Linked DNA regions of Homo sapiens. The protein of the gene in region 1 interacts with the protein of each later gene in a pairwise test. Each region holds a gene or a part of one and is shown in the gene's direction. Other genes may lie near its edges.

Region 1 (3,500 bases):
TATTATCAAAGCAGTTTTAGATTGACAAAATAGTAAAAGCCACCAGTTATTGAGTATCTGTAATGTCCCAATGTCTCAGGGAGTTTGCTAGGAGCTTTATGTGAAAATAATAAGAGGCAATAATGTATTCTGGTTGAGTACTCCATGTGGTGCCGGACTGCCTGGGCTCATATCTGGACCCCATCACTTACTGCCTGTGTGTACCTGGGCAAGTCACTTAACCTCTCTGGGTCTCAGTTTCATCATCTGCAATATAGAGTTGTTAATAATTCCTACTACATAGGCAGGGGTGGATCTAGGCTTTGGGAGGAGAGTAAAGTTTATACAATTTGCAGGACCCTCTTGAAGGAAAAAAGTATCAAATTATAACTACAAAATTAGGTGCTAAAATGACTATTTATTTAGAAAGATAAAGAAAGCACAACAAATTACACATTTTGACAATCTGACAGGCACCACAAACATCACGCATTTTTAGGGGCTTGCACAAGTGAGGTGTCCTGGAGCTTATGTTTTATTAGCATGTAAATAATAATTTAATTTTTATAAAAATAACAGTTCTGCTTTTATGGTTGTTCGAGGATTAAATGAGTTAATTCAGGCAAAGCATTTGCATATAGTAAACACTTAGGTAATATTAGCTGCTTTTACTATTTATGCACAGCCTAGTTAAGTCTCTGACTACCGCTGTAATGTCTCAATGTACTTATTTGACAAAGGACAACCAGGAAGTCCTTTCTGAGAAGTGACAGCTGCAACAACCTACTATGTGCAAAGCCTGGATTGGAGTGTAGGTGTGCCGAACACCAAAGCTGGGGCTCTCAGCAAATCCTTCAAACAGCAAGCCATGTTCACTTTTATAATTTAGTTGAATTTATTTAAATGTGATTTGTATTTGTAGCTCATGGCACATAGGTGATGTGCAATATATGCTAGTCATAATTCAAACATCTATTGTGGTGATACATTTCTAATTCCCTGAATTGGACATTTCCAGATTTTTAATTTCTTACAAATTCTCACTGAGAAGCAAATTTTTGCATTTGGGGGGGAAAAAAACAACAAAAATCAAGATAGCTATTTTTTTTCAACTCTTTAAAAAACAAAGCCAGTGAAAGATTTTGTAAGCTTCTGGCCATTCAATAACGTCTCCCTTATGTGCAGGGCTGGATTGTTGAAATGAGTTTGTAGGGCAGAGTGCGGAAGGAGTATGCTGTGGGAGAAATTCCAGGGATTTGGTCACTCCCAAAGCAGCCATATGCCATTTCTTGAGGGTGGAAAGGAAGGGTGGGGAAGTCCTGAGAACTGGGTGATGAGCTGTGTGTGACTTGGTGTTCCTAACTAGCACTTTCCCCAAGTCCTTGGATGCTCACATATAAGGCGATCTTGCTTATCATGTCATCAGCGTAGCTGCTGGGAATGCCAGCCGGGTGTTTCTGGATCTGAGGAGCAGTGGAGTAGGTCGATTTAGGAAGATGGGGGACAGAGGATGAAGACCTGAGCTTTTTTTAGGAGGAGGGTTCTGAACCACTCATTATTTTCCCACAAGAAACATCCAGTTCCCTGATTTTTCTTTTCTTTTCTCTGTCTGTCTCTCTCTCTTTTTTTTTTTGAGACAGTCTCACTCTGTTGCCCAGGCTGGAGCGCAGTGGCATGATCTTGGCTCACTGCAACCTCCGCCTCCCGGATTCAAGCAATTCTCCTGCCTCAGCCTCCCAAGTAGCTGGGACTACAGGCACACACCACCACACTTGGATAATTTTTGTATTTTTGTAGAGACGGGGCTTTACCGTGTTGGCCAGGCTGGTCTCGAACTCCTGATCTCAGATGATCGGCCTGCCTTGACCTCCCAAAGTGCTGAGATTACAGGCTTGAGCCACCGCACCCCACCCCTGATATTTTATAGGTAAATAAAATAAACAGGGTGACTTGCCTAATGGCAGTTGCTTTTAAAAAATTTTAATCGGCCAGGCACAGTGGTTCACACCTGTAATCCCAGCAGTTTGGGAGGCTGAGGTGGGCAGATAGCTTGAGCCCAGGAGTTCAAGACCAGCCTGGACAACATGGTTGAAACCCCATGTCTACTAAAAGTACAAAAATTAGCTGGGCATGGTGGCATGCACCTGTAGTCCCAGGTACTTGGGAGGCTGAGGTGGGAGGATCACCTGAGCCCAGGTAGTCAAGGCTGCAGTGAGCTGTAATCATGCCACTGCACTCCAGCCTGGGTGGTATGAGTTGAGACTCTGCCTCAAAAAAACTTAAAAAACAATCTTTCTGGAAATTGTTTGGAATTTTAGCTGTAATATCAGGTTTCTTCTTCCATTACCAAGGTGATAGGCATCCCAAATTGCAAATGATTAATAGCTAAACAAACTTGCAGCAACATTACTTTCAAGGAAGAAAAATTTGGGGTGAGTGATATAGAATTACCCAAATGGGAATATTCTCAGACTAACCGTTCTCAGCCCACATGATAAATGGCATCTCATGTGACTTTCCAACATCTAGCCCTTTGTTCTGTTCCAGGTCCTATAGCAGATCTCTAAGGTAATTGGCCCTTAAGTTTCTCGGTTTGGGTTTCAGCATTTCAGAATGCCCTTAGAAGAATGGGGCCAGGTGGTAGATAAATTCCTTGTACAGATCCCTCTAGGAACGCATGACTTCAGTCAGTTGAAGGTGTTTGGCTGAAGCTGGCCTTGGTGTAATGGCTCTTGGATCTGTTATGGCAGCAGTCCCCAACCTTTCTAGCACCAGGGACTGGTTTTGTGGAAGACAAGTTTTCCACGGAATGGGGGTGGGAGGGATGGTTTTAGGATGAAATTGTTCCACCTAAAATCACCAGGCATTAGTAAGAATCTCGTAAGGAGAACACAACCTAGATCCCTTGCATGCACAGTTCACAATAGGGTTTGCCTCCTATGAGAATCTAGTGCCTGGAGCATTAGGAGGCAGAGCTCAGCCGGTAATGCGGGCTCGCCCACTGCTCACCTGCTGTGTGGCCCGATTCCTAATGGGCCACCAACCTGTACCTGTCCACGCCCCGGCGATGGAGACACCTGTGTTATGGGACCTAGAGTCACGGATACAATGTTATAGCTCAAAAGAAGAATGGAGGATGCAAACCTCGCCTTTACATCTGTCTTTAAGTCAACCGGGTCATTACAGCATCCATACCAAAGGTGGAGTGTCTGTGCTCAAGAATTAGGCTTTGTTTCTCTCCTCCTGCCTCCCATTCTTTCCCATGGATGGACTCTCGAGATGACTCAAGTACCTATCTCTCTTCCTCCCTCAGTCATGATCTGATGCTCCGGTGGATCCTGGGAAGAAAAACACAACCCCTATCAGTCAAATTATAAACATTTAAGCGGCACTGGCAGGTTTTTTTTCCCACCTATAGTTGCACTAATTGATAACGGGGTAGGTTTGGAGATTCCACACTCCACAGCTCTGATGATGTTACTGACACATGCTCGTCCTAAGGAAGCCTTTACCTCACCTTC
Region 2 (4,032 bases), on another chromosome or scaffold:
ATCTGCAGGCCAACCCCTTTCCTGTACATATTCAGCCTCTCCAGTAAATTATATTTGTTACACGAATTTCCATTACATTAGTCTCTACTCACCTTTTTTCAGGACACATGGAAATACTCCATTTCCATTTTCTTGGATTCTGCCTCTCTCACCCTGCCCCCCCAACAAGGAAAACTCAAACAAAAATATATCCATCATGTAGATTCCCAGTCAGTATGTTTTCTTCTGTGAAGACTACTTTCTTTTGGAATTGAGCACCCTTTTTTCTACTTTTGTAGTGCTCATTGGATTGTAGTAATAGTTCTCAAACTTTTTGCTCTCAGAACCCTTTATATGCTTATTGAGGACCCCAGAGAGTTTTTATGTGGGCTACATCTTCCAGTATTTACTATATGAGAAATTTAAACTTAGGCAATTTAAAAATATTTCTTTAAAAACAAACTTATATGTTTATATATATATTTTAAAGAAAAAACACTTTTTTCCCCAAATAAGAAATAGTGGTGGGAGGAGTGGGGTTGTTTTACATTTTGCAAACCTCTTTCAATGTCTGGCTTAATAGAGGACAGCTGAATGGCCGGGCGCACGCCTGTAATCCCAGCACTTTGGGACACAAAGGCAGGCGAATCACCTGAGGTCAGGAGTTTGAGACCAGCCTGGCCAACATGGTGAAACCTTGTCTCTACTAAAAATACAGAAATTAGCCGGGTGTGGTGGTGCATGCCTGTGATCCTAGTTACTCAGAAGGCTTAGGCAGAGAGAATTGCTTGAACCCGCGAGGCGGAGGTTGCAGTGAGCTGGGATTGGGCCACTGCACTCCAGCCTGGGCAACAGAGTGAGACTCCGTCTCAAAAAAAAAAAAGACAGCTGAATTATCATATCCACTTCTGCACTCAATCTCTTGCGCTATTTGGTTGAAGTATCTAAAGAAATAGCAGCCCCACATGCATATGTAGTAGGAAAAAGGAGAAATATTTTATTAGTCTTTTCAGATAATTGTGGATATTCTGCACTAAAATGGTAGCTATTTTCCCCCCCAGAGAAAGGTGGAAGAAAAGTAGTTTCTTAAAGTTTGCTGAATTGGAATTTGAAACCTTAGTAATGAATTTCATACTTAATACGTTAAGATCCATTGGTCTATTTTGTACTTTGAACGAATCTCATCCATGTGTGATTTTTGTGACATAGTGCATTAGTTATTTGGAAAATAATGGTTCACTCAGTTAAGAACGTCCTCTGAATAGCAACACATTTCATTATACAATATCAAAGAAAATCATGTTTGTTAATATCACTGATCTCATCAGAAAACTCTTTAAATATTGGGAAGCTATCTAGTTCACTGTTGTGGATACACATTATCCAAAATGTATTTTTCAAGCAACAATTAGAAATGTATCATTGAGAACAAATACTGTCAGTTTTTCTTGAAGCGAAAAGCTCACTTTGTTCATGTTGAAGATGTACACCAAATGCCCAAGTCTTATTAACACAGTTTATCAGTCTCTCAAGTAAAGATGATGGTCCATGAAAAATGTGGCTAGTTCATTACATGACTCAGACAATCACAGGTGCTTTTCCTGTAGTATGTAACAAAAGCCTGTTTATGTAGTCTCCTTTTTGTCATATAGAATATTAAAAAGATATGCAGCCTGGGCAACATGGCAAGACCCTGTTGCTATACAAAATAAAAAATTAGCTTGGCATGGTAGCATGTGCGTGTAGTCTCTGCTACTCCAGAGGCTGAGATGGAGGGATTGCTTGAGCCTGGGAGGTGGGGTTACAGTGAACCATGATGGAGCCTGTGCACTCAGCCTGGGCAACAGAAGAAAAAAGTAGGTATTCATGGGTTGGGATTTAATACAATTAATTTTTATTGTGTCATCAAGGATATTCTTTTTTTAATTTTAGTTTTTGTTTTTTGAGACGGAGTCTCACTGTATTGCCCAGGCTGGAGTGCTGTGGCACAATTTCAGCTCACTGCAACCTCCTCCTCTCAGGTTCAAGCGATTCTCGTGCCTCAGCCTTCTGAGTAGCTGGGACTACAGGCATGTGCCATCATACCCAGCTAATTTTTGTATTTTTTTTAGCAGAGATGGGGTTTCGCCATGTTGGCCAGGCTGGTCTTGAACTCTTGACCTCAAGTGATCCATCTGCCTCGGCCTCCCACAGGCATGAGCCACCACTCCTGGCCAGGAATATTCTTAAGTGAAACTAGCTTGCTTTTTTTGGACTGTAATTAGGTAGCTGTGAAGAATGCAGTGACTAATGGCTCAATCTGGTGCCACTGCCTTGACTCCTGCCAAGGTACCAGTAGTTTACCAGCCATTGCTTTCTACCATCAGTACAAATGTCAGCACAGTGAAAAGGGCAAATAAACTCTTAGAATTATTATGAAAATAGTTTTGGCCTTGTAGAATCCCTATAAAGATTACACAGACCACTGGGAGATGCTAGTCTGCTATAGTATCTGCCTGTCAGCTAAATCTTGAGGTCTTTGGGGCCAGAGATACTGCCTTACTCATCTTTAATTGTTTTAGGATTGGCCACATAATACCTTGCCCAAAGTAGCTGCTCAACAACTAGTTGAGTTTAGTTGAATTTCTGTTGAGTGTAAGTAAATAAATGGACTTTCTTCCATTTTTTAATTAAAATTTCTCCTTTTAAAAAATTGTGCTAAAATACAGATAACATAAAGTTTATACCAGGCCAGGCGTGGTGGCTCACGCCTGTAATCCCAGCAATTTGGGAGGCCAAGGCGGGCGGATCACCCAAGGTCAGGAGTTTGAGATCAGCCTGGCCAACATGGTGAAACTCAGTCTCTATTAAAAATACAAAAAAATTAGCCGCACGTGGTGGTGTGTACCTGTAATCCCAGCTACTGGGGAGGCTGAGGTGGGAGAATTGCTTGAACCTGGGAGGCAGAGGTTGCAGTGAGCTGAGATCACGCCATTGCACTCCAGCCTGGGAGAAGACGCGAGACTCTGTCTCATAAATAAATAAATAAAATTTATACCATTTTAGCCATTTTTAGGTATATAATTTAGTGGCGTTAAGTGTATTCATAATGTTGTACAACCATCACCACTATCAGTTTTCAAAACTTCATCAGCCCAAATAGAAACTCTGTGTCCATTAAATAATATCTCATTGTTTCCCCCTTTCCCATCTCTGGTAACCTCCCCATTCTACTTTGTACTGCTATGAATTTGACTATTCCAGTACTCCATTTAAGTAGAAAAGTGTTCTTTTGTGTCTGACTTATTTTACTTAGCATGTCTTTAGAGTTCATTCATATTGTACCATGAGTCAGAATTTCTGCTGAATAATATCCCATCATATAGATGTATGCATGCCACATTGTGTTTATCCAGTTTTCTGTTGATGGACATTTGGGTTGTTTCCACTTTTTGGCTATTGTGACTAGTACTGCTGTGAACATTGGTGTACAAGCATTTGTTTGCATCCCAGTTTTTCAATTCTTTTGGGTATGAACCTATAAGTGGAATTGCTGGATCATATGGTAATTCTATGTTTAACATTTTAAGGACTTGCCAAACTGTTTACACAGCAGCTGTACCATTTTACATTCCTACCAGCAAGGTATGAAGGCTTCAATTTCCCCATATTCTAACGCTTGTTAACTTTTGTATTAAAAAAAAAAATCCTGATGAATGTGGACTGTCTTACATTTTAAAATTATAGCTTTTCTATGTTACTGAGCCCTTCTTGAATTATTTGGTGTTAAGCTTGACCTCTCTTGTCTTTCTAATGATGTGTACGCCTCCCAAATTTACAAAGGAAAATTTTTTAAATGGCTTATTTTTGTCTTGAGGTAGGGAGATTTGGTAAATACAGTATGGAATGAAAGAGTATATAAATATATTCTTTTTTTGTGTGTGTGACAGGGTCTTGCTCTGTTGTCCAGGCTGGAGTGTAATGGCATGATCAAAGGTCCCTGCAGCCTTGACTTCCTTGGCTCAAGGGATCCTCCTGCCTCAGCCTCTGAAGTAGCTGAGACTACAGGCATGT

Evidence for each region.
Region 2: the proteins of ITIH5 (region 1) and PPM1D interact in a two-hybrid assay, tested with the Homo sapiens proteins (one large-scale study listed by BioGRID and IntAct).

The regions. Positions count from the first base shown.
Region 1 is NC_000010.11:7,660,467-7,663,966, reverse strand, and holds part of ITIH5 (inter-alpha-trypsin inhibitor heavy chain H5 isoform 1 precursor), read left to right. Parts: intron 1-3,500. UniProt on the Homo sapiens protein: May act as a tumor suppressor.
Region 2 is NC_000017.11:60,602,914-60,606,945, forward strand, and holds part of PPM1D (protein phosphatase 1D), read left to right. Parts: intron 1-4,032. UniProt on the Homo sapiens protein: Involved in the negative regulation of p53 expression. Required for the relief of p53-dependent checkpoint mediated cell cycle arrest.